3 linked regions of the Homo sapiens genome follow. The protein of the gene in region 1 purifies or fractionates together with the protein of each later gene. This does not show direct contact. Each region holds a gene or a part of one and is shown in the gene's direction. Other genes may lie near its edges.

The links.
Region 2: the proteins of AGTR1 (region 1) and SLC6A8 purify together in Homo sapiens (affinity purification with mass spectrometry; 3 studies listed by BioGRID and IntAct, with this or other methods). This does not show direct contact.
Region 3: the proteins of AGTR1 (region 1) and ATP2B3 purify together in Homo sapiens (affinity purification with mass spectrometry; 3 studies listed by BioGRID and IntAct, with this or other methods). This does not show direct contact.

The regions. Positions count from the first base shown.
Region 1 is NC_000003.12:148,700,652-148,708,273, forward strand, and holds part of AGTR1 (type-1 angiotensin II receptor), read left to right. Parts: intron 1-7,292; 5' UTR 7,293-7,376; intron 7,377-7,622. UniProt on the Homo sapiens protein: Receptor for angiotensin II, a vasoconstricting peptide, which acts as a key regulator of blood pressure and sodium retention by the kidney.
Region 2 is NC_000023.11:153,683,461-153,691,252, forward strand, and holds the start of SLC6A8 (sodium- and chloride-dependent creatine transporter 1), read left to right. Parts: upstream 1-4,465; 5' UTR 4,466-5,114; coding exon 5,115-5,376; intron 5,377-6,050; exon of another isoform or gene 6,051-6,139; intron 6,140-6,914; coding exon 6,915-7,046; intron 7,047-7,792. UniProt on the Homo sapiens protein: Creatine:sodium symporter which mediates the uptake of creatine. Plays an important role in supplying creatine to the brain via the blood-brain barrier.
Region 3 is NC_000023.11:153,576,347-153,583,756, forward strand, and holds the end of ATP2B3 (plasma membrane calcium-transporting ATPase 3), read left to right. Parts: intron 1-3,631; coding exon 3,632-3,952; 3' UTR 3,953-6,583; downstream 6,584-7,410. UniProt on the Homo sapiens protein: ATP-driven Ca(2+) ion pump involved in the maintenance of basal intracellular Ca(2+) levels at the presynaptic terminals. Uses ATP as an energy source to transport cytosolic Ca(2+) ions across the plasma membrane to the extracellular compartment.

The DNA.
Region 1 (7,622 bases):
CAAGTGTTGTAAAGATTAAAACGTTGTTTTGAAGATATGCTGTGTCAATAAACAAATATGGAGCCAGAGCAACACAATGTGACCAAGTGTCCAAGCCCAGCTTAGGAACACTTTTCTCCCATGTTATCTAGCAAACTGACAAATCAGCTTTCCAACACGTGATGATTGGAAAATGCTATTAGTTTCCTTCAAAATTCTCCTAATGTTTCTTTTTCAAAATTGCCTAAGATCATTGGATTATGTGGTTTGTGTTTCTTTTCACTGTAGCTGCTTGTTAAAGCAGTATACTCAATCTCTGATAAGCAACAGTAAATTTGATCGATTTGTATCCTAAATTTAGCTATCACTTTACATTTTGTTTTATTCATAATATGAACTTTAGCTTCTAAAAATCAACTTTTTAATAGCTTAATATATAAAGCCATCTTAAATCAAGGAATATCTATAGGGACTTAAGGTAATATTCAACTAAATTGGCAAGTGACTACCATTATCCTATTAAAGCTCTAAAATGCAATATTTCAATCACAGAAAAAAAATCTTATAATTTAAAGAACTATAAATTGCCAGATGTTTCCCTAGTTATTACGTTAGTGACAAATTAGACAACTGGAAATAGAAAACAGAGTATATGTTTGGAACAGTCATAAAAGGACTAGTGACTATTGCTGCTAGCTGTGGTTGTATTAACATTAAAATATTTGCTATGGGATTTTTCTTCTTATCAAAGCAGATGCTCAGATGAGGAAAAACTTTCTTGCATATGAAAATCAAAATTGTCTTCCAAAATATTTAAGTAACAAAAAATTCATTATGTAGTATAAATGCTGTATGATTACATTATTCTTATAGTTAATTTAGAAGGGTTTGAATTTGTTTTTGTTTTGTTTGTGTTTGTTTCTTCGATAGGTGCATTCTCTAACTGTCTTAAGTAGAAACAAATGTCTAGAATCTCTCAGTGATTATCAGTCTCCTTCCTATTACCAAGAATGTTTTTATTGTGTTGTTAATCTCACATGTAATTTTTTTAACATTTAAAAGTTTGGAAAATGGGTAAAAAATGAGTGTGCCTTGTTTCCTATTATTACAATGTGCCTTCCTATTTCAAGTCCCAATTCTAGATTTCCTTAAAACTTAAAATCATAGAATTAATAATCTTTCAGTTTAAGTCAACTTTTGTGTGATTTCTTGTCCACTTATACACACATAGATGCCTTCATCTTCACCAAATAATGTAGAAATTTTATTTAGTTCAATGGATTTAAGTACTCTGTATGCTTAAGTACAAAATAAGAATATTGAGAAATACACATATGATTGTGTACCTTTTTTTTTTTTTTTTTTGAGACAGAGTCTTGCTCTGTTGCCCAGGCTGGCGTGCAGTGGCATGATCTCGGCTCACTGCAACCTCTGCCTCCCAGGTTCAAATGATTTTCCTGCCTCAGCCTCCTTAGTAGCTGGGATTACAGGTGCATGCCGCCACGCCCAGCTAATTTTTGTATTTTTAGTAGAGAAGAGGTTCGCCATGTTGGCCAGGCTGGTCTCAAACTTCTGACCTCAAGTGATCTCCCTGCCTCGGCCTCCCAAAGTGCTGGGATTACAGACATGAGCCACCTCACCTGGCCTGATTTTGTACTTTTAAAGAGAATTTGTTGTTGCTAATTTGCTAAGTTTATTTAGATATTTTCTGATTCTATATTAGTCAAAGCTCCTCTTATCTACTTTGGAAAATGAAGAATTATGTCTATAAAATATATCAACAACAGCTGCAGGTACTTACAGAGGAAATACTGTGGATCTGAGTGATATTAGGCCCTGAGGATACAAGCCAAAGTATAAAAATGGTCTTTGCCGTAGAGAGATAGTAGTCAAGCTAAGCACATATTTTGGCATGGGTCTCTAATAGCCTAATGCTAGTAGGGTGGGAAGCCATTTAAAAATGGCCCCTCCTTCTGTCCTGCCTTTCAGACCAGATGGTGTGTCTAAAGTGGTCACACTGTTTGGTTCTGGCCACTTCTGTAATAACCACTGCTCCTTTCCCCTCCTCGTGAGATTATAACTCCTTTGACAGTATGGATGGCACCTAACGCATCCTTGTTTTCTTTTACTAAATGTTCCACGGAGTCACTTGCTTGCCTGTTTGTTGCTTATTTGTTTGTTTTTGGCTAAAACTACAGAAAATGTTAAATACATTTTCAGACCTTTATATTTTAAAAAAGAAATGTTAAGAAATAAATAATTTTTCTAATCTCATTTAGATACACTGTCCTATTACACACAATGACAAATTTGATGCTTTTGTCTTGCTAATTGAAGAGCTAAGCATGAATACAGTTTTTCAGTCTACAGCAGCAATGACAAGGGTAAAGTGGAGAAAAGAGTAAGGAAAGAAAAAATTAAAAAGAATAAAAGGTTGAAATATCAAATCGGTGGTTCTTAAGATGACAGAGGCAGGTGAGACAAGAATACTGGAATCACCCAGGGGGCATATGAAATCTGTACATTTCATCCACACCTTCTTTTCTCCCCCTGTCCTCATTCCCCCTGTTGAGACACATTGTATTACAAATTAGGAGGAAACCATCTAAAATTATCTCACGTATCCCAGTTCCCATATTAGCATCATGAGTATCACCTGAGAGTTTGTTGGAACTGCAGAATCTCAGACCCTGTCCAGACCCATTGATTGCATAAGAATCTGCATTTTAGCAAAATCCTCAGGTGATTCAAATGCACATTAAGGGAAAAGAAACACAGTGTACCGTACCTGTGGCTTGTTTAGAATAATTATGAAGAGGTGTTTTCTTGGCTCTTAACTAACGTTTTTAATAAAGCTAATATTTATTGAGTACATAAATGTGCCAAACACAACGTTCAGTCTTTCTTTAAATTTTTTTTATTTAATCCTCACAACAACCCTGTGAGATAGTTTCTGTTTTATCCTTATTTTATAGATTGGGATACCAAGTAATAATGAGATAAGTAGTTTACCCAAAAGCTGTAACTGATACAGTCGAGATGTAAACATAAGAATTCTAATTTCATTGCCTGTTCTCTTAGCTGTTACCTACAGTGTCTGCTCTATACTGGGCTACCTACTTTTTAAGGCCAACTAATTATTTGAAAATTTATTTAAAGTTTTAATTTGAGATCAAAATCTGTTTCCCTCATAAATTTTTTTTAAAAAAAGCAAACAAGATCTATTCCATTTTGATCTAATGTTTTCCTGTCACCTTACCTTTAAGTGCAATAATGGGAAATTCTAGAAATTCCTTCTTTAACTGTTTGAAAAAATACCAAAACTATGACAGCCTGTCCAAATCCACTAAAATATATTTTTATATGCATGCTTTTTGTATATCAATTATACTTCAATAAAGCTTTTTAAAAAAATAGTAGATGACATACTTTTAAAAATTAACTTTGGAGCCCAGGTATGGTGGCTCAGACCTGTAATCCCAGCACTTTGGGAGGATCACTTGAGGCCAGGAGTTTGAGACCAGCTGAGGCAACAAACTGAGACCCCCATCTCTACAAAAAATAAAAAATTGCCAGAGCATGGTGGCGCACACCATGTAGTAGTTGGGACCTGTAGTCCCAACTACTCAGGAGACTGAGTTGGGAGGATTGCTTGAGTCTGGGAGGTGAAGGCTGCAGTGAGCCATGATCACACCACTGCACTCCAGCCTGAGCAACAGAGAAAGACCCTGTCTCGAATAATAATAATAATAATAACAACTTTTGATATCTCTATTTTTTCCCATAAAAATCCAAAATTTTCTGTTTACTTTTTGGTGCTCTCATGCTATAAAGTAAATTCTCCCTTGGATTGGACAAGTTATTTTCTGTTTTCTACATACACATAGACTGTTCAGCATTCCAACTCAAATTACATATTACTTTTTCAGCTTTTAATATAAATGCTTATTTACTACAAGCATGGTTTACAAAAATGTAGTAAAATATAGTTACTAACCAGTCAATGCTCAAGCCAGTGACTCCCCAAATGATTCAGTCCCTGAGCTGTTTCACCCAGTGCAGGTAGATTCTCTGACAGCCATCAGTTGGATCTGTCCGAATATCTCCTGTTTTGACAGGGGCTTATTGATGTTGGTCAAAAGACAGGTGTGTATGGGTTCCCTGGGATCATGTTTGAGGGGAAACCTGTGCCAACAGGACTGAGCAGCCACTTTTTCAATGGTATTGAGAAAATTTGTAGGAGATAAAATTTCACCAGCTCCTTGAATCTAGAACTGTAGATATTCAGGTAGCACTGACATTACAACATCTAATTTGTAAGTTATGGGTTAGGGCAAAATCAATCCAGGGCTGCCATCATGACAAGTAGTGGAAGTTTGAAAGAAGGAGAAATACCCAAAAGATATCTTACACATAGCAGGCAGAGTTTCTTAGTACTAATAAAAAATAAAGTACCAGTGATCACCCTCTATAGCCCCTAAGAGTCCCCTGGTTTCACTAAGCCCCAATATTTGTGGCTGTGGCTGAATGCAATCTGCACAAGGTTTTCTTTTTAACAGTTGGAAAAAATCTCATAGCATAGCATTTTTTTCTTTTTAACAGTTGGAAAAATTCTCGTAGCATAGCATTTTTTTCTAGTAAATTTCATATACTTAACAACTTTATCAGCACATATATTTTCCTTCACACTTACAATTTCATCAACACATATACTTTACTTTTTGACTCAAATTCTTCTTGCCATCAATTCAAATGCTCCTGCCCTTAGAATGAGAATTTTCCATTAACCCAGCTTTAATAATCTAACTCTCCCATTCAAATGATGTCACTTCATATAAAACACATTTTATCATGATGTCTCCCAGCCCTCAGTTACACAGTTAATTGCTGCCACTTTATCATGAATGAAAAAGATGTGATTCTTGGGTAATGATTTCTTGAGTATGTCCTGGTCTATTATCTACTGAGTTACCAGAGTGGATTTTTGAGAGAACACACAGTTATTCCTATTCCTTTTAATTTCCATTAACTTAAGCCATATGATAGAACATTACAGTTGTTATATATTTTGTATAAATATAAAATGTAATATATAATTTATATATTTTAAAATATTTAGTGGCAAGTAAAGATAGTAGTAAGTGAAAAAATCACTGTATAACATATGAATCGTAAGTGTGATCCCATGTATGTGTATACCTGGTAGATGCTTGTCAAGGTGCCATTAAGGTCTTGGGTTATTGGCATCTTAATGAAATTCATTTAATTATGTTAGGATTGATTTGTTAGTAAAATCACTTACATGTTTTTTAAATGCATGCATATCTGTGGAGCCAATAAGAAAAATTAGGAACAATATACAACAAATCTTAAGAGCTTTTGAGGATGATTTTTTTTCTTTCTTTCTTTTGTATGTACCTACAAAATTTTCTATAATGGATCTCTATTGATTTTATATTTTTTACTTTCTATTTGTCTTGGAATTTCTATTACTTTATTTATAATTCACTCTAGATTTTAGGTACTAGACAACTACTATTAACTCTCTGGAGAATGGTACTATAAATCTGACCCTTTCTGTCATTTTTTTTTCCTGTGGTACACTAGTGTCTCACAAAGAGTCCACAGAATTCACACGGTCATGATATTTTATAGAAGAAATCATTTTATGGGAACTTTCTTTTGTTAATAGATCCTTCCAATGCTAACATTATTCTGTATAACAGTGCTAAAGTTGGTATGCCTAAATGCTAAACTTGGTATGCTAAAGTTGGTTTAAAAATTAACCTATATACAATCTTCTTGAATAACTCTTCAACTTTAAATAAATTTCTTATTTAAAAAATCCTCCTATATATAATTAAAAATACTGATGAATTTGACTACATAAAAATAAATGCTTATACAGTAAAAAGTACCATAAACAAAGTTATCATCTAAACAAGAAACCTGGGAAAGCTATTTGCCAGCCATTACATGTAAAATTTAAGTTTCCTTAACATAACATGAGCTCTTTAATGTGAGAAACAATAAACAACCTAATTGAAACATGAGCAAAAGCCATGGCTGAGAAAACTCGTAGAAGAATTACTATGGAAACAATAAGAAAATGAAAAGAAGTTCAACCTCATTCATAATTAACGAAATGCAAGTCAAAACAAAGATATACCTTTTACTTATCAGATAAAGAAAAAATGATTTGATAAAACCCAGATTCTTGGTATTATAAATTGGTATAACCTTAACGGAGGACATTTTATGAATATCTATCAAAAACTTAGCATATACAAACAATTTGGTTCAACAGTCTGTTAGAATTTATTATATAGATACATTCATATAAGTACAAAAGTGCATATATGTAAATATTATTATTGGGACATTTTTGTAGCAGCCAAAAGGAAAACTGAAAAAAAAGATTAAGGCTCATTAATAGCAGACTGGTTAAATAAACTATGTGTGAGTACAATGAATGAAATATTGTACAGCCATCAAAATGAATGAGGTAGATTTATATATGCTGATGTAGGAAATCTGCTAGCCATCATAAGTAAAATAAATGAAACAAAGAAGAAAATACTATGATGTACAAAAAGAAAAAACTATAGATATACATATTTATATGCATGTGTATGCATTTTTTATGAATATACATATTTATATGCATGTGTATACAAGTCCTAGAAGGAGACATAGGTAACTATTAGTAGTACCTCTGGGAAGTAAATGCAGAGAAAAGTAATAGAGGGTAAGGATATGTTTACTTTTATTTTACATCCTTCTGTAACTTGACATTTATACGACGCGTTAGCATTACTTCTGGGAAAAAGAAAAACAGAAAAGGTAATCTTTTAAAAAGGTATTTTTTAAATTATGGTACAATAAAATGTGCATAAGCTTTATACTAAGTAATAGAATCATTTAAGTTTAGCTGTAGATTCACAAGTAAAAATCCAATCTATTTTCATATTCTTACATTTATAGACATTTCTTACATGTCTATAGAAAGAAATGGCTAGGAATGAGACTGCACTATTTTACCCTAAAACGTTCTTTTTCTCTTTGCCTAATGTATATCTACAAGGGCATTGGGGAAGATGTTGACCACAGGCAGGAAGATGATGAGATCCTGTGCCCACCACTTAATGCAGTCTAGCTCTATATAAGGAAAAATATGTTCTTGATGTGAACCAGATGGTTTCACTCCCTTCAAAAACACTCTTAAGATGCAGTGTGGAAGCTTACTCTGTAAATTAAAAAATAAAAACCTGACTATATTCAGTGGAATGCGTTAATCATTTTTTTCTTTTTAGGTTTGATATTTGACAAATTGATCTAAAATGGCTGGGTTTTTATCTGAATAACTCACTGATGCCATCCCAGAAAGTCGGCACCAGGTAAATGCCTTACATCTACAGCAGTGGGTCTGTCAGCAGTTTTCTTTAATGTGTCAGCAGTGGGGAGAGCGCAAAAACCCACACACACCATTATCTTGTGAAAGAAGTAGAGGAAGCAGAAAATAATGAAATCCCAGTGTTACCACATCCCCTCCAATATACAGATTAAGAGCGTTTGTATTTATATGGTTTTAAACATAAATAACATCAGAATTACTAAGCTATTTCCATTCATGTACTGATAAT
Region 2 (7,792 bases), on another chromosome or scaffold:
TGAGACAGAGTCTCACTCTGTTGCCCAGGCTGGAGTGCAGTGGCACAATCTTGGCTCACTGCAACCTCCACCTCCCGGGTTCAAGCGATTTCCGGCTAACTTTTGTATTTTTAGTAGAGACAGGGGTTTCACCATGTTGGCCAGGCTGCTCTTGAACTCCTGACCTCAAGTGACCCACCCGCCTGGGCCTCCCAAAGTGCTAGGATTACAGGTGTGAGCCACCGCACCCAGCCCGAAAGCTAGGATTTTTTAAAGATAGTTTGGCGGACAGGGGGCTAGGGAATGGGTGCTGCTGACTGGTTGGGTGGGGGATGATTCTTGTGTGCTGAGCTGAGTCTGCTTTTAGGTAGGGCCACAGGACCTTGAGTCATAGGTCTATGTGGTCCGGGTGGAGCCATCTGGTAGTGAGAAATGCAAAAACCTGCAAAGACGTCTCAAAAAGCCAACCTTAGGTTCTACAATAGTGACATTATCTACAGGAGTAATTGGAGAAGTTACAAATCTCTTGAGCTCTGAACAATGGCTGGTCATCATGAATGCTTCCATGTTAGCAGAATTCAGGCCCCTCTCATCCTCCTCACCTGATGGCCTTTCATTACTTTTACAAAGGCGGTTTCATCTTGGGAAGGTCTGTTATCATTTAAACTATAAACGAAATTTCTCCCAAAGTTAGCTTGGCCCATGCCCAGGAAAGACCAAAAACAGTTTGGAGGGTAAATGCAGACAGGGTTGGTTAGATCAGCTCTCTCACTGGCAGAATTTTGTTACTGTTACAGTTTTTGCAAGGCAGCTTTAGGGTGATGGGTCTGCACGGAATATATGCATGTAACAGAACCGCGCTTGTACCCTCTCAATCTATAAAACAAATAAAACCAGCCTAATAAAAGTTTACATAAAATGTAAAAAACAAAGCAAAGCCTCCTTTCTGCGGGTCTGTGTAAACGAGCACAGCTGGTGGGAAGGGCGCGGGTGGGGGGTTCTGCTGCCCCCCATCCCTGCCCTGCTGCAGGCCCTCGCCCCCAGCCCCATTCTTTCTGTTCTCCGCTTGGCTGCAGCCGCACGTCGGCCCCCTCCCCAGGAGCTGGAAGTACAAAGCCCTTCCAGGTGGACTCTGGCTCCCCCTTTGTTCCCAGCTTATTCTAATTCCAAAGCTCATTGTGCCCGGCTCGCCTTCAGAAGAGGAGGCGCCCCCATCCTGTCTCCAGCTGCCCATCCTCCCAGGATAACCAGTCACCCCAGGGCCCGGTGGCCCCTCACCCAGCCCCTCCCCGGTCCGCAGCTGCCCTAGGCTTGAGTGGGCGCTGGCTCCAATTCTCAGGCCTCCCCCAACAAACAGGAGCATTCCGGCTAGCCCCCCTCCCCTGCCCTCCCCCCAGCTCCCCTTCTCCTCCCCTCTCCCTCCTCCTCAGCTCCTACTCCAACCCCCCAGCCCCAGCTGGGGCCTGAAAGGCTGCCCACTCCCTGGGACACGGTAAGGGGAGGGTGCAGCTCTCCCCCCGCCCCTCCCCGGTCGCCTCTGCCCCAGAGAACAGTTTGCTTCTCACCCAGAAGCCACCATAGGAGCTCTGGGCTGGGCACAGGTCGCAGGGCACCCCCACCCCCTCCTGCACATGCTCGGAACCCCCCTTCAGTGAGTAGAACACAAGGGCCTGGCAAGACAGGCGGAGGCTTGGAAAGGGCTGGCGGGGGACAGCTACCCGGCCCTCAGCTGGGGGCCTGGAGAGCCCACCCTGCCCCTCCCCAGCAGCTGCTGCCCCCGGGCCGAGCCTGACGCGCCTTGACAAAGCCCGAGAACGCTTTGAAGCCTTCGGACGTGGGAGAGGACCCAGCCAGGGATGGAAATCGCTTTGCCTTTGTTCCCCCAACTGCTCAGCAGCTCGTGGGAGCAGCCTCAGAAGACCCTGTCACTGGCCGCCCGGGTCAGAGCCTGTGACAGAGACCAGAGCTCCGGCCGGAGCTCCCCGCCGGGAACTCCAGCCTTACCAGCCTGAACTTCATGCACTGCTCAAAGAGGCCCAGCTCGCCCTGGCTGGGCAGGGGCGGCTCCCAGGGTGGCCGACGTGGGGAGGGTTCCTGAACCTCCCTCAGGAGCCTCCTGGGACAGAGTCCTGGAGGTCAGCAGAGAAAGGGAAGCCCAGGCTGTGGGCCCCGCGTGGAGGGAAAACTCAGGGGGAACGCCCCGAGGCTGGGAGGGCACAGCCCCATCACACTCCATCTCGTAGTCTTGGAGAAAAATTTAGTTCTACCTCCAGGGCACAGAAAAGCCCAAAGAAGGGATGAGATAAAGGAGGGGCTGGTCAGATTTGTGCTTCAGGAGGGTCCCTCTGGCTGCTCAGAGAATGCAGTTTGGGGTCTGGCCCAGGCCGTGAGGAGGAGTTCACAGTCACTATGGGGTCCAGACCAGCTGGGGGCGGGAGGCAGGGCCTGGCCCAGGGGCTGGTAGTGGGTGCACCCCAGGCTGGGCTGGCAAAGGGCGGGGAAGAAGGTGGGTGTGGGAAGGGGTGGCTGCCTGGAGAAGAGCCCAGTTCCAGGAGGTCGTGGGAGTCAGGTATGGGGGCCCACTGGACCTCCCCTCAGATGTGGGGGCTCCCACTCCGAGGGTCCATGGAGCAGTGGCAGCCATTCTGGACAGCCCCCCACCCTTCACTTCTGTCTCCAGTACCCTCCAGCCTGGCCACCTCGCCCTCTGCCTCGGCCTCCTCTGATCTCACAAAGGCAGCAGCAGTCAGGGGTGGCGACTCCCTCATGATCCTGTCCCTGGCCTCGGAACCCACCGGAGGAGTAACCGCAGCAGTGGTCACTTCCCCAAAGTGCCATCAGCTCTCCTACATCCTTCTCGAGCCTCTGCTTTCTCTCCCTTCCACCCCCACCCCTTTGACAAGCAACATCTGAAAGTCTCCCCTGCCCGCGGCTCCCAGAGCTGTCTGGCCGTGGCCTGCACTCTCCCTCAAAGCGGCCCTCCCCCAGGTCACCGTCCTCCCTTCGATGACATCACGCGCCCACCCCGCACTCCTGCTGGGCTGAGGCCCTCCGAGCCTACTTCACCGGGTCCTCTTCTTTCTCTCAAAGGCAATGGGGTTTGCCTGTGGTCCAGCTGGGTTGGCCCTCTTCCCTCTGTCCTGGGTCCTTGAGTGGCCCCGCTTCTTTAGGCCATCTATGAGTCACTTCTCTAATGCCCCTGTCTCCAGACCAGCTTCAGTCAAAGGCTGGGCCAGAGAAGACCCTAGTGAGAAACTTCTGATGAGCAGTGTGACCTTGCCACCTCAGGGGTACCCACCCACCACCCCTGGTCTAAGCACAGGTGACACCGCCTGTCTCCCCCAACCACACACACCCCTTGAGGCTCCTCCTCCAAGCCTGGGTGGGGACACTGTCCCTCCCTCACCCAGCAAGCTCAATCTGGCTTGGGCCGGAACTGCTTTTCTTCCTAAAGCTGGACGGATGGCCGCGGGCTTAGCTTAACGGGATGAGCCATCTGGGGACTGCAGTGTCCACGATCAGATCAGGGAGCTTGAAGCTGAGGGGGGCACACTTTACCTCCCAGGCCAGGACAATGACCACTTCCTTCCCCACCCCACCCCCAGGCTACTCTTAGCCCTAGAAAATTCTAAACAAGCTGCTCAGCTGGCGGCGGAGAGGCAGCCCAACAAGCTGGCTCTTGCTAGGGAGGCCTGGGGGGTCCTGGGGAGAGGAACACGGGGTGGGTGGGGGGCGGGCAGCCAGGACCTCAGGCCTGAGGCCTTTGGGGAAGGGTCTGTGCACCTGCCAGGCACCAGGGGGCAGCCTTGCCTTGTTCCCGCTCCAGTCCCCTCAAGTCCGAAGCCCCTACCCACTCTCACGCCAGGCAGGGGTGGGGGCCGCCGGGGTCATTTACCCGGGCCCCTTCTCTGCCTTGATGACAAAGTCGAGGCTTGCTCATCAGCCAGGCAGGCTCCCCTCTGCCCACTGTGGAGACACAGAGGCCTGTCACCTGAAGAGCTGGTCCCGGCCTCCAGCTTCCAGGGTAGCCGGGAAGCTGTAGCCCCCAGTGGGCAGCGGTGGAGAGAGCTCAAGGAAGGAGGGAGCACCGGGAGGAGACGGCTGCAGCCTGCCAGGAGCGGGGAGAAAGGGAGAGAAGGGGAGGCGGAGGGCTGAGGGGGCCCGGGGGACGTCTTCCCAGGGCTGGGAGGGGCCGGCCGGGAAGCCTGGGCTGCACTAGGAGCCGGCGACCCTGGGGCGAGGGGCGGCCCGGAGCCCTGCGGGAGGAGCTGGCGGCCGCCCCAGGTAGCAACCATCCTGCCTCCCGCTGGAGCGGCGTCTCCTCCCCGGGAGGAGGGCAGGGAGGAGGTGGGCGGAGTGTGACGAGGAGGGCGGGAGGGAGGGATGCGGGAGGGGGAGGGGGAGGGGGGCCGGCCGGCCGTGGGGGTGGGGCGATAGTGACATCACCCCGGAGTCGGTTTTTAAGCGGCGGCCGGCCGGGGACGGGGAAGAGAGGGATAGTCGGAGCGAGGTGGCGAGTCGCTGAGCCCGCCGCGGCCCCGAGAGCGGCTGCAGCCGCCGCCGCCGGGAAGGAGAGGGCGAGGCGCGCCCGAGCCGCCGCCGCCGCCGCCACCGCCGCCGCCGCCACCACCGCCACCGGAGTCGCGGGCCAGCCGGGCAGCCTCCGCGGGCCCCGGCCGGGGCGGGGGGCGCGGGCCACAGGCCCCTGCTCCGGCCGCCGCTTGCAGACCGCGGGCGCCGATGTCGCCCGCGCCCCGCTAGGCTGAGCCTCGGGTCGGGCGAGGAGCCGCCGCAGCCGCCGCCGCCCGAGCCGCGGGCAGGAGCCTCGGGAGCCGCCGCCGCCGCCGCCGCCGCCCGGCCGGGCCCCGCCGCCGCCCGCGCGCCCCCGGGCCCCCGACACACATGAGATTCTTCAGGCTCACTTTCAAGTGCTTCGTGGACTGCTTCTGACTGCGCCGCCCGCGCCCCGCACCCCGCCGCCCGCCCGCCGCCCCGTCCCCCGGCCCGGCCGCCCCCCGGCCCCCGGCCGGCCCGCGCCCTCGGGGCCCTCCCCGGTGCCGCCGGTGCCCCCCGCCTGACCGCCGCCCCCCGTGAGGCGCCGCGACCCCGGCCCGGCCGTGCGGCCCGCCGAGGCCATGGCGAAGAAGAGCGCCGAGAACGGCATCTATAGCGTGTCCGGCGACGAGAAGAAGGGCCCCCTCATCGCGCCCGGGCCCGACGGGGCCCCGGCCAAGGGCGACGGCCCCGTGGGCCTGGGGACACCCGGCGGCCGCCTGGCCGTGCCGCCGCGCGAGACCTGGACGCGCCAGATGGACTTCATCATGTCGTGCGTGGGCTTCGCCGTGGGCTTGGGCAACGTGTGGCGCTTCCCCTACCTGTGCTACAAGAACGGCGGAGGTGAGTTCCCCCGCCCGCCGCGGCCTCCTCCCCCAGCAGGCCGCCGGCCCCCGCCCGACCCCCGGAGCCGCCGCGGAGGGGTGAAGTCCGGGCAACGGGTGGCCCCCGGGCACGCGGGGGTCGGGGCCGCCCCTCGTCCGCCGCTGCCGCTCGGTGGCCGGGCCGGGCGCCTCCACCCCCCTCGCAGTCATGTGCCTGGCATGGTGGGGGGAGGGGGCCGGCGATGCCCGCGAGGCTGCCCCCCAGACTCCCGGGCTGGGAGGAGCGATTGGCCGCCGAGGTGGGAAAGCAGGCCTGCGCCTTGGGGTCTCCGCGAGGTAAGGAGCCCTGGCTGCCCCCACGGGTCGGGCACACAAGCGGCACATTGTGTGGGCCCCCCACGTGTGCACACACACGAACACACACACACACAATGGGCCACTCTGTCCCTCCCCCTGCCCTCCCCTCCCCTCGCGGCCCTCCCGCCCCTCCCCTCTGGCCCGGGCCTGGAACACTGGGTGCCCGAGCCAGGCTTGGGAAGCCTGCGGCCTGGCCCGCCTGGCGCCGCCACTGGACACACTGCATGCACGTCCCATGCCCGCCCGCCCGCCCGCCCGCCCGGGCCCAGCTTAGCAACAGCGATGGGCACGCGTGTGTCCTGTGACTACAAAACAGCACTGGGGTTGCTGGAAGCCGAAGTGACCCGGTGATGGGTGGGAAACAGAGGTCCAGAGCAAAGGCCTTTGCCCAAGGTCAGGAGAAGGATGCTGGGACCTGGAGTCAGGCAAGTTGCAGCCAAGCTCAGCCTCTGAGTAGTGGAGCGAGCCCAGCCAGGGCAAGGGTAGGAGGCCCAGAGAGGAGAAGGGGGTAGTGGCACCCAGCTCTCCCTGCCCTTCTGCCACCCCCACCCCAGCCTGCTGGCCTCAGGAGATAGGCCTGTGTCACGCCCTGCCTATCTCCTGCAGAGCCTGACTCCCTGGCCTTGCTAAGGCCGGCCTGGCCCCTCTTCCGCACCTGTATCCCTCTGTCCTTGCACATCGCCATCCCACCAGCAGGGGACTGTGACCCACCCACCCTCTGCCTTAGACCTCACACTTGCAGGCAAGCGTCCAAGGGCAGGACAGTCGCGCTCCCTGCCTTTGGATGAGCCCCCCAGGCCTGATCACCCAGCCTTGGCACACATGCACACATGCACGTGCCCTCACTGTGCTGCCTGAAACAGGGAATTGCAGCACTAGGGACAGCCCGCGTGTCTGAGCGTGTGTGTCCTCCATGGCCATCGCCCCAAGTGACCGTGGGGGTGGAAGCCCTGGGGGCCTAGGGCCCCTCTGCCACCCAGGGAATAGGGCTCCAATGGCTCAGGGGCTACTGTAGCCCCTCTTCAACACACTCAACCCACCCCCTCAAGACTCCACCTGGGGCCTGAGTCAGTGGCCACCCCTACACTGACTCACCCAGTCGGAAGTTGTGATGGGGCCTTTGGAGTCTGGGCTGGCCCGCTGGGCCTGGGCAGCCTGGCTGGGGGCCACCCTGAGTCCACGCTGTGCCTCCACCCCCAGGTGTGTTCCTTATTCCCTACGTCCTGATCGCCCTGGTTGGAGGAATCCCCATTTTCTTCTTAGAGATCTCGCTGGGCCAGTTCATGAAGGCCGGCAGCATCAATGTCTGGAACATCTGTCCCCTGTTCAAAGGTGAGCAGCCCTTGGCCAGCCTCAGGGACTGCCCCCTTCTCCCAGCTGGCTCCCACTTGAGAAATCTTTTCCTGTCGTGAGCACCAGGCCTGGGGCCACGTGATGGCGTCCCAGTCTCGAGGGGGGAGCCTGGAGGAGATGTTCAGGCCGCACAGCGAACTTGGGGAAGCGGGGACTAGAGGGGGCATAGGCAGCTCCACAAGGCAAGGACAGGCCAGGCATAGCCGGGCTGGGGACGGGACCTGCCCAGCAGCACCCTTGGCTCTCTAGGTAGGTCCTACTGTTACTATCCCCAAGGACGCTGGGGCACAGACAGGTGGAGCGACGTACTGAGGTTGCCCACTGCAGGGGCGACTGTCTCCAACACTACCTCAGGCGACTAGAAACCCCCCCCCCCCACCACCACCATCAACACCAGCTGCTGAGGACTGGAGGCTACTGGGTGGCCAGGCAGAGGCTTGGACCTCCTGGAACCGCCATGGTGGCAGTGGGACCCACAGAAGGGGCCAGGTGTATGAGGCTGGAGACTCCACAGCACTTGGTCAGATGGGGACAGGAGGAGAGGGGCTCGCTCTGCCTTGGGTCTAGGGGGCGGCTGGAGGAGAGGAGACAGGCTGGGGAGTCAGCGCAGTGTTGGGGCTCACACAAGGGGGAGCCCAGGGGAGTCAGGAGCACCACAAACAAGGCTCCAGGAGGACAGATGGTGGGAGCACGGCCAGCCTGGGTGGGGACATAAAGGGGTGGCA
Region 3 (7,410 bases), on another chromosome or scaffold:
TTTTGAGTTAGGGTAGGGCCCACAGGACACGTGGATGTCTGGTACATAGGGTCAGGGGGTCAAAGTGCCTCTGAGGTTTGGCCAGAGCCCTGCACTGGGATGGGAAGGCTGCTGGTGGGCAGAGTTCAGCTGGAGCACTGATAAGAGTCCTCCTCGGGCCTCCTGCAATTTGAGAGGTCCCTTAGGCATCCGAGGGGGAACACCCGGGAGGCAGCCAGGGCAGAAGTCTGGCAGTCCAGGAAAAGGTGGACATGGTGCAGCTGGTATCTGCAGTATTTACGGTGGCCTGATGGTCTATAGACAGCATTGACAGCCCTGGGGGCCATGAGATTCCTTTGGGAGCAGTAGGGGGCGTGGCGCGTCCTGGGCTGAGAGCAGAGCAGGAGGCGGTGCAGGAGCCTGAGATGAGGACAGAGTGAACCCAGGCTGGTGGAAGGAGGGCATCCTTGAGCACCCAGGTAGGAGTGCAGCCCTCTGGGATGGGCCTCTCTTAGAAACGTTTGTTGCTTTCCATTGAACCAATCTCCCAGGAATCGACTGCATCCTTCAGTGTTGGGTGGGCTGAAAACACCCCACCTTAACACCAACACCAAAACATTGTTTAATGGCCCAGGATTAGGATGCAGGGAAAATAGAGCCTGGAGAAAGCTGACTCACTGTCAGCTGTAACAGACTCACCAGGACTCCAGCCAAGCTTAGCACCCCCAAACAGCAGAATGTTGGGGGGCAGCCCTTCCATCCTGCAGCGGTTCACTCAGTCACTTGTGCATTCCCCAAGTGTCTGCTGAGCAGCTGCTCTGGGCCAGGCTCTGTTGTTAAGCCACAAACAAGGCAGATGCCATCCGGGAGGGGCACGCTGGAGTAGCCGGTGAGACCGGAGGAGCAGTAGCAGCAGAAGCCCAGCCTGGAAGGAAGGGCTGGCTCCGTGGCCTGGCTGTCCTTTATGGAGGTCTTTGGAGTTGAGCCAGGTGCAGTGAGACCTGTGCATAGGTTTGAGCAGGGGCCTGGCCTGATCACATGCCCCCAGGTCTGAATGAGGCCACCAGCTCAGCGAGATCTCACCCCACACAGCCCTGGGGTCAAGGCCTGCAGCACTTTGTCCTTTTTGTGACTTGATGGGCAACAGCTTTAGCAGGCGATGTCCCAGGCGGCTTCCACACCACAATCCTGTACCAGAAAAGGCCTAAATAATGAGGCAACATCTGCATTGGCTACGAAAACTGAATTCTGTTTCTTTTCATTAAAAACGTCAAATTATTCTCAATTTCTGTGTTACCCCTAATTCAGAAACCAGTCTGGGGATAAAGGCCTGAGTGAGAATAGCTGACCATCTGCCGTCTGGCAGATGTGGCTTTCCCGAATGCAGAGAAAATCCGAACCAGATTTCAGATGGGGTGCTAGAAAATTCCAATGTGGAGCTTTTTGGCTTACTTTTTTTTATTATTATTTTAAATAGGAACGGGGAGTATCACTCTGTTGCCCAGGTTGGTCTCGAACACCTGAGCTCAAGCGATCAGCCCGCCTCGGCCTCCCAAAGTGCTGGAATTACAGCCGTGGACCACCAAACCTGGCCCTGGCTCACTTTTTGCACTGGAGAGGTGATGAGGTTGGCATCATTTCAGCTGATTCCGAAGCACTGTGCTTTGCCTAGCTGAGCCCCTGGAGGGCTGAAAGAAAGTCACCGAAAAAAGGTGATTAATTGTCTAAACGACAGAGCCAGAGAGGAAATATTTTTAGCTTTCCAGGCCTGGTCTCTGCTGCCGTGACACAACTGTGCCCTTACAGCATGAAACTTAAACCAGTAAAATTTTATTAACCAAAACTAGCAGAGAGCTGGGGTTAGCCCCTCAGCAAGCCCTGACACCTTGTCTAAACCCAGAAAACCAAATCCTAGGTCGAACCTTGGCCCCAGAAATGCTTCAGAACTCCTAATGTGTCCACCTGCTCACATAGGCAGGGGTGGACAGGTGTTGGATGAACCCCAGGGTCTGCCTGGCAGCTCAGCGCTCCGTCTGCTGCCCCCTATAGGGATGGCAGTACAAGGTGGGCCAGCTACCATTGGCGGCTGTGCTGACACTGGCCTGTGCGAGGCCAGGCAGAGGCCTCCCCATCAACTCCTGGCTTCTAGAAGCAGGAGGGGGCCCAGGCTGAGGGGCCAGGGAGCAAAGAGAGGCAGCAAGGACTTGAGTGCGTGAGGCAAGGTGGAGAAGCCAGAGGAGGGAAGGGCTCGCTCCTGGAGCAGTGCCCTGCCGGAGGGTCAGGGGGCTTAAGGGCTGCCGTGCGCTCAGCTGGGGGCAGAGGGCCACTGTGCCGGGGGAGTCTGGGGCACAGCGGGAGCTCTTTCATGCGGGAAGTTCCGCTGATCTGAGGTCTGCAAACTCCTGTGGGGAGGGATGGCCAGGGAACAACACAGAGCGGAGCCCGGGAGGCAGCAGAGACGCAAGTTTTGGAATGTCTGACTGGAAGATGGAGGAGGAGACGGGAGAGAGGACAGGCGGAGTGAGGTCAGAAGAGCAGGGGCACCAGATTGAACCAGACCCAGTCAGACACGGGGGCTGTGAGGAGGCCACAGGGGCATCTGAGCAGAGACAGGCTTTAGTGGGTGCAAATCAAAAGTGTGGCCATTTTCGGTCTCAGATACCTCCAGCTGGGGACTGCTGGGCTCTCTGGCCTGGAGCTCTGAGTACAGGCCTGGGCCACAGTTTCTGGTTATAGCCAGATGGGCCCCAGCACTGTGGCCAGGGTGGAGAGGTATGGACAGAGAGGAGGAGGGACAGAGCCAGGCCAGAGCTCTGGGGCACCCAGGGACAGAAGAGAGGGCAGTGGAGGAGATGGGGCCAGGGCAGCTGGTGAGGTGGAAGAGGGCCAGGCAGGGGCAATGTCAGGAAGCCATGAGAAGCTTCCAGAAAGAGGGATGATCTTCTGTGTTGAGTGCCCTGAGGGATCAAATCAGACGAAGATGCAGAAGTGGCCAGTGGAGTTAGCCGCAGGGAGACCCTCGACATGGCAGGTCCCGGCTCCAGCCATGGGAGCTGGGGGATGGAGGGAGACCCATGCGAGAAAGGCCGGCAGTGCCCATAGGCTGGGAACTTGCTCATACCAGCAGGTACTTCGGACTTTCTGGTAAGATCGAGAAGACATCCCACTCACCAGCATTCTCTCCTTTTCAAATCATCTTTCTTTTCTACCAAATTGGAATTCAGATTGGGCAGAGACCCCAGAGGTCACCAAAGCCACTCGTCTCCCCAGGACAGGGAACTGCGGGGTCACAGCCAAGAGCCTAGTGCAGCACTCTCAAGTTCCAGAATACCTGCCCAGCTCAGCCTAGAGAAAGACACTGCCATCTTTTCCTGCATGCGGATCGGTTGACGAGACCAAGGCCCACACCTGAAAACTCTTTCCAAAGGCAGGCAGAGCCATCCCATTCCGTAGCAGCCCTCCAACAAATGGGTGGACATTTCTCATGCCATGACCCCCAGCCATTGACGTGGGTGGAATTTACCAGCACCAGCCGGCCACTGACTGTCTCCTTCCTTCCTTCCTACCTTCCTTCCACGTTTCCTTTCCTTTCCCTTCCTTTCCTCCCTCCCTGCTCCCACCTCGCGCCCTGTCCCTCCACCTCCCACTCCAGATCCGGGTGGTGAAAGCGTTCCGTAGCTCGCTCTATGAAGGCCTGGAGAAACCAGAATCCAAGACCTCCATTCACAACTTCATGGCCACGCCCGAGTTTCTGATCAATGACTACACCCACAACATCCCGCTCATTGACGACACGGACGTGGACGAGAACGAGGAGCGCCTCCGGGCCCCCCCGCCCCCGTCCCCCAACCAGAACAACAACGCCATAGACAGCGGCATCTACCTGACCACGCATGTCACCAAGTCAGCTACCTCTTCAGTGTTTTCCTCCAGTCCCGGGAGCCCGCTCCACAGCGTGGAGACGTCCCTCTAACAAGAACTTGTCTCAGCACATGCGCACACGCACACTCGGACTCACACGAAGTCACACGCACACATGCACGCACACACACATATGGGGACCTGCACACCTGCAAAACGAGGGAACAACTAAGGTGGCTGAAGACCTTTCTGGCAGGGCATTTGCAAGGACCCAAATCCATTCAACAAGGGTGCAGCCTGCCACAGGCTCCTCATCCGGACTGAGGAAGACGAGGACAGGGAGGAGGAAAAGGAGGAAGAGGAGGACAAAAAGGGGGAGGAGAAGGTTCTTCGTCCAAAGGAGGAAGGAGAAGAAGTAGAAAGTGCGAAGAGCTGAGTTCCCCACCTTTTTTTCTATTGATGCTTCTTTTTTAACAAACTACAGTTTTACCGTGTGTTTGCCATTTGAGCTGTGTGGTGGGCAGGGGGCTGGTTTGGGTTTATGGGGAGCTTTTGTTGCACCCATGCAGGGGCAATCAGATCAGCATCTTCATGCAAAAAAAAAAAAAAAGTTGAGTGCTCTGCAGGCCTGTGAAGGGTGCCACCTGAGGGAGCCGCCTGCAAGCGGCCCTGCAGCCACAAAGCAACCCGCCCTCTGCAAAAACTAGGCACATCCGCAGTGCGCATGTGTGTGCGTGCATGCACATATGTGTATGTGTGTGGATCTGTACACACACACGTATATATGGCCAGATGCGTATTTCAATAAGGAACTATTTACTGGCATGATATTTGCATTCCTCTTATCAGGCATTTTCATTTGGAAATTTCATTATTGAATGTAGCAAGGTTGTAGTTGTTTTTTTTTTTTTTTCAGGGAACTAGACTGCAAGAATATCTTTCTGGTCAACCCATTTTTGTCCCTCATCACCCCGCCCCCACCTTTCGCTCCTGCCCTCTGCCCGGCCCTACTGAGATTCCCAAGGAGAAGGCCGAGAGGGGGCGCTCCAGGTCTGGAGCAGGTATAATTGGAGCATTTGCACTGAGACCCCTGCCAGAGAGGAGAAAACCCTTTCAAGGGAAATTTTAATCTAAAAGGAAAAAACCAAAATATTGATGAGAAGGAGTCCTCCAGTTAGTGAAAGGGGAGTTTCGTTTTCAGCTTTCTTTGGTTCCTACTCCAATTCCACATCCTTCATCCTGGCCATGCCCCCACCTTCAAGAGCATGAAGCACTCTTGGAGTTGTGGGTCCTGCCCAGAGTCCAGAGAGCAGCCTCAGCTGAGCACAGGTCCGAGGGGGCGGGGGCAGGGCCAAGAGTTCAAAAGAAGCCAATGGAGGGAGAGGGAGCGTCAGAAGCCCGGAGGAGCTGGTGGTGGGAGAATGACGGCAGGGACGCAGCCACAGTTCAGACCCTGTCCCCTCAGCACCTGGATGGACTCCCACTGTTTGCTTTGGCAAATGCCGAGGAGTCCTCGGTAGACCACCTTGATGTCTGCTGTGACATCAGAGGTGCCACCACCAAAGCACTCTTCCCACCCTAGTCTTTGTGTCCAGCGGCCAAGCTTAAGCCATGAAGTCATGGATTTGTGGCTCAGCACCAGGTCCTGAGGGGAGCGTATCCTGGCAGTGTGGGCACCTGGTGGCCAAGCCTCAGTTTCCCCCAAATGAGCAAAGGGGATAAAGAGGGGCCCGACTTTTGCCACCCTCCTGAGGAAGCCCCTAGGTCCACACAGTGATGCCATGGGGGACCCTTGCCTTCCACACTTGCAGGTGTCACGTTTTGCAGGGAGGTGTTTGGGCCTTGGGCTCAGCCACTGGGAGACAGTTGGGACCTGAGGGACAGAGGATCGGAATGGAAACCACCAACGTGCACTGGCACCCTCAGAAGGCTTGTCTCACCTCCACCGGCATCCACACAAAACCAAACAGGAGCAGGCGTCATCCCCACTATTCCCATGAATGCCATGTCACCCCTGAGCAGAAGCAGTCAAATCTTGGGCAAAAGAATTTCGGTTAGAAAAGAAAATCCCACTTTAAAATGCCAGCTGCAGATAACTCAAAGCCATCCCTTTTTTCTAAAGGGCACATTGAGAATGTCACCCATTTGTAAACTGTTCCCTGATGTCCTTGTTTAAACGATAATAAGAAAAAGGGCAACTCCATTTGTTGAGGGTCTTTGTGTTCTTCAATGAGAAATCAAATTTGAGACGTTGAAATTGGAGCTGCGTGCTGCTGCACTCACCGGCTTCTTCTCACTCTCTGTCGTAGACACACCGATAGGACCAATGGCCAATAGATATTAAAAGCAAACCCTCACTGCTGCTGTATAAAGTTGCCTAATGTAAATGTCTATTGTTTAGTCCCTAGGTCACCTTTGTGCTGTGCTGTGGAGTTCAGAAACGGGGTACCATGACCTGGAATCTTTTGCTCTTGTTTTTGCAGTCTTCAAGGCTGGGGGCCCTGTCTCATTGGGAAGCCCCTCTTTATAAAGCATTATATTACTTGGAATGGCTTGGTCAACTGTGTTCAGTTCATAAATATGTTTTACATTTTTATCTGCCTGTTATAAAGATGAACAAAAAAACTTAATGAGAAAGATCACAGATACGTAATAATTTAAAGTCTGTAGTTGAATTTCCTAACTTAAAGAATAGACCAAAATTTCTGTGTATAAAAAAAAATGAAAGGCTCCTTACATCCTGGTCTGGGTAACGTGTGTGATTTATTATTTGGTGAATTATTGTGCAGAACAAAACAAAGGTGCCTTCATGCCTCTTTAACAGAGCTGGAGAAGCCCCGGGCAGGAGGGGCTTTCCCCTGGGTGTGCAGCAGCCTGGCCGGATGTGTATGCAGAAGAGGAACTTATGCTGGGATGTTAGGCCCCCAGTGGGAGGGGCTCCAGCTGCTGCAGGAGCCGCGGCTGTCTTGACTTGAAAGGGCCTCTAGTACACGGCGCGGTGGCTCAGTCCTGTAATCCCAGCGCTTTGGGAAGCCGAGGCGGGAGGATCCCTTGGGCCCAGGAATTTGAGGCTCCCCGACACACATGCACGCTCCCCACTTCTTTTATTGTGGTAGAACACAGATCACATAAAATGTACCACGTTCACCATTTGTAAGTGTGCGGCCCAGGGGCAGAAGCACATTCACGGTGCTGTGCAGCCATCACCACCGTCCAGCCGCAGAACTTGTTCATCTTCCCAAACTGAAGCTCTGGCCCCGTTCAACCCCAACTCCCCACCCCCCAGCCCCTGGCACCCAATCTTCTACTTTCTGTCTCTATGGATTTGACCACTCTAGGCCCCTCATAGAAGTGGAATCCTACAGTATTTGCCCTTCTGTGACTAGCATGATGTCCTCAAGGATCATCCATGTGGAAGCATGTGTCAGAATTTCCTTTTTAAGGTGAATCATACTCCATTGTCTGGATATGCCACATTTTGCTTATGCAATCAGCCATCCATGGACATTTAGGTTGCTTCCACATTTCAGCTATTGTGGACCATGCTGCAGTGAACATGGGTATGCAAAC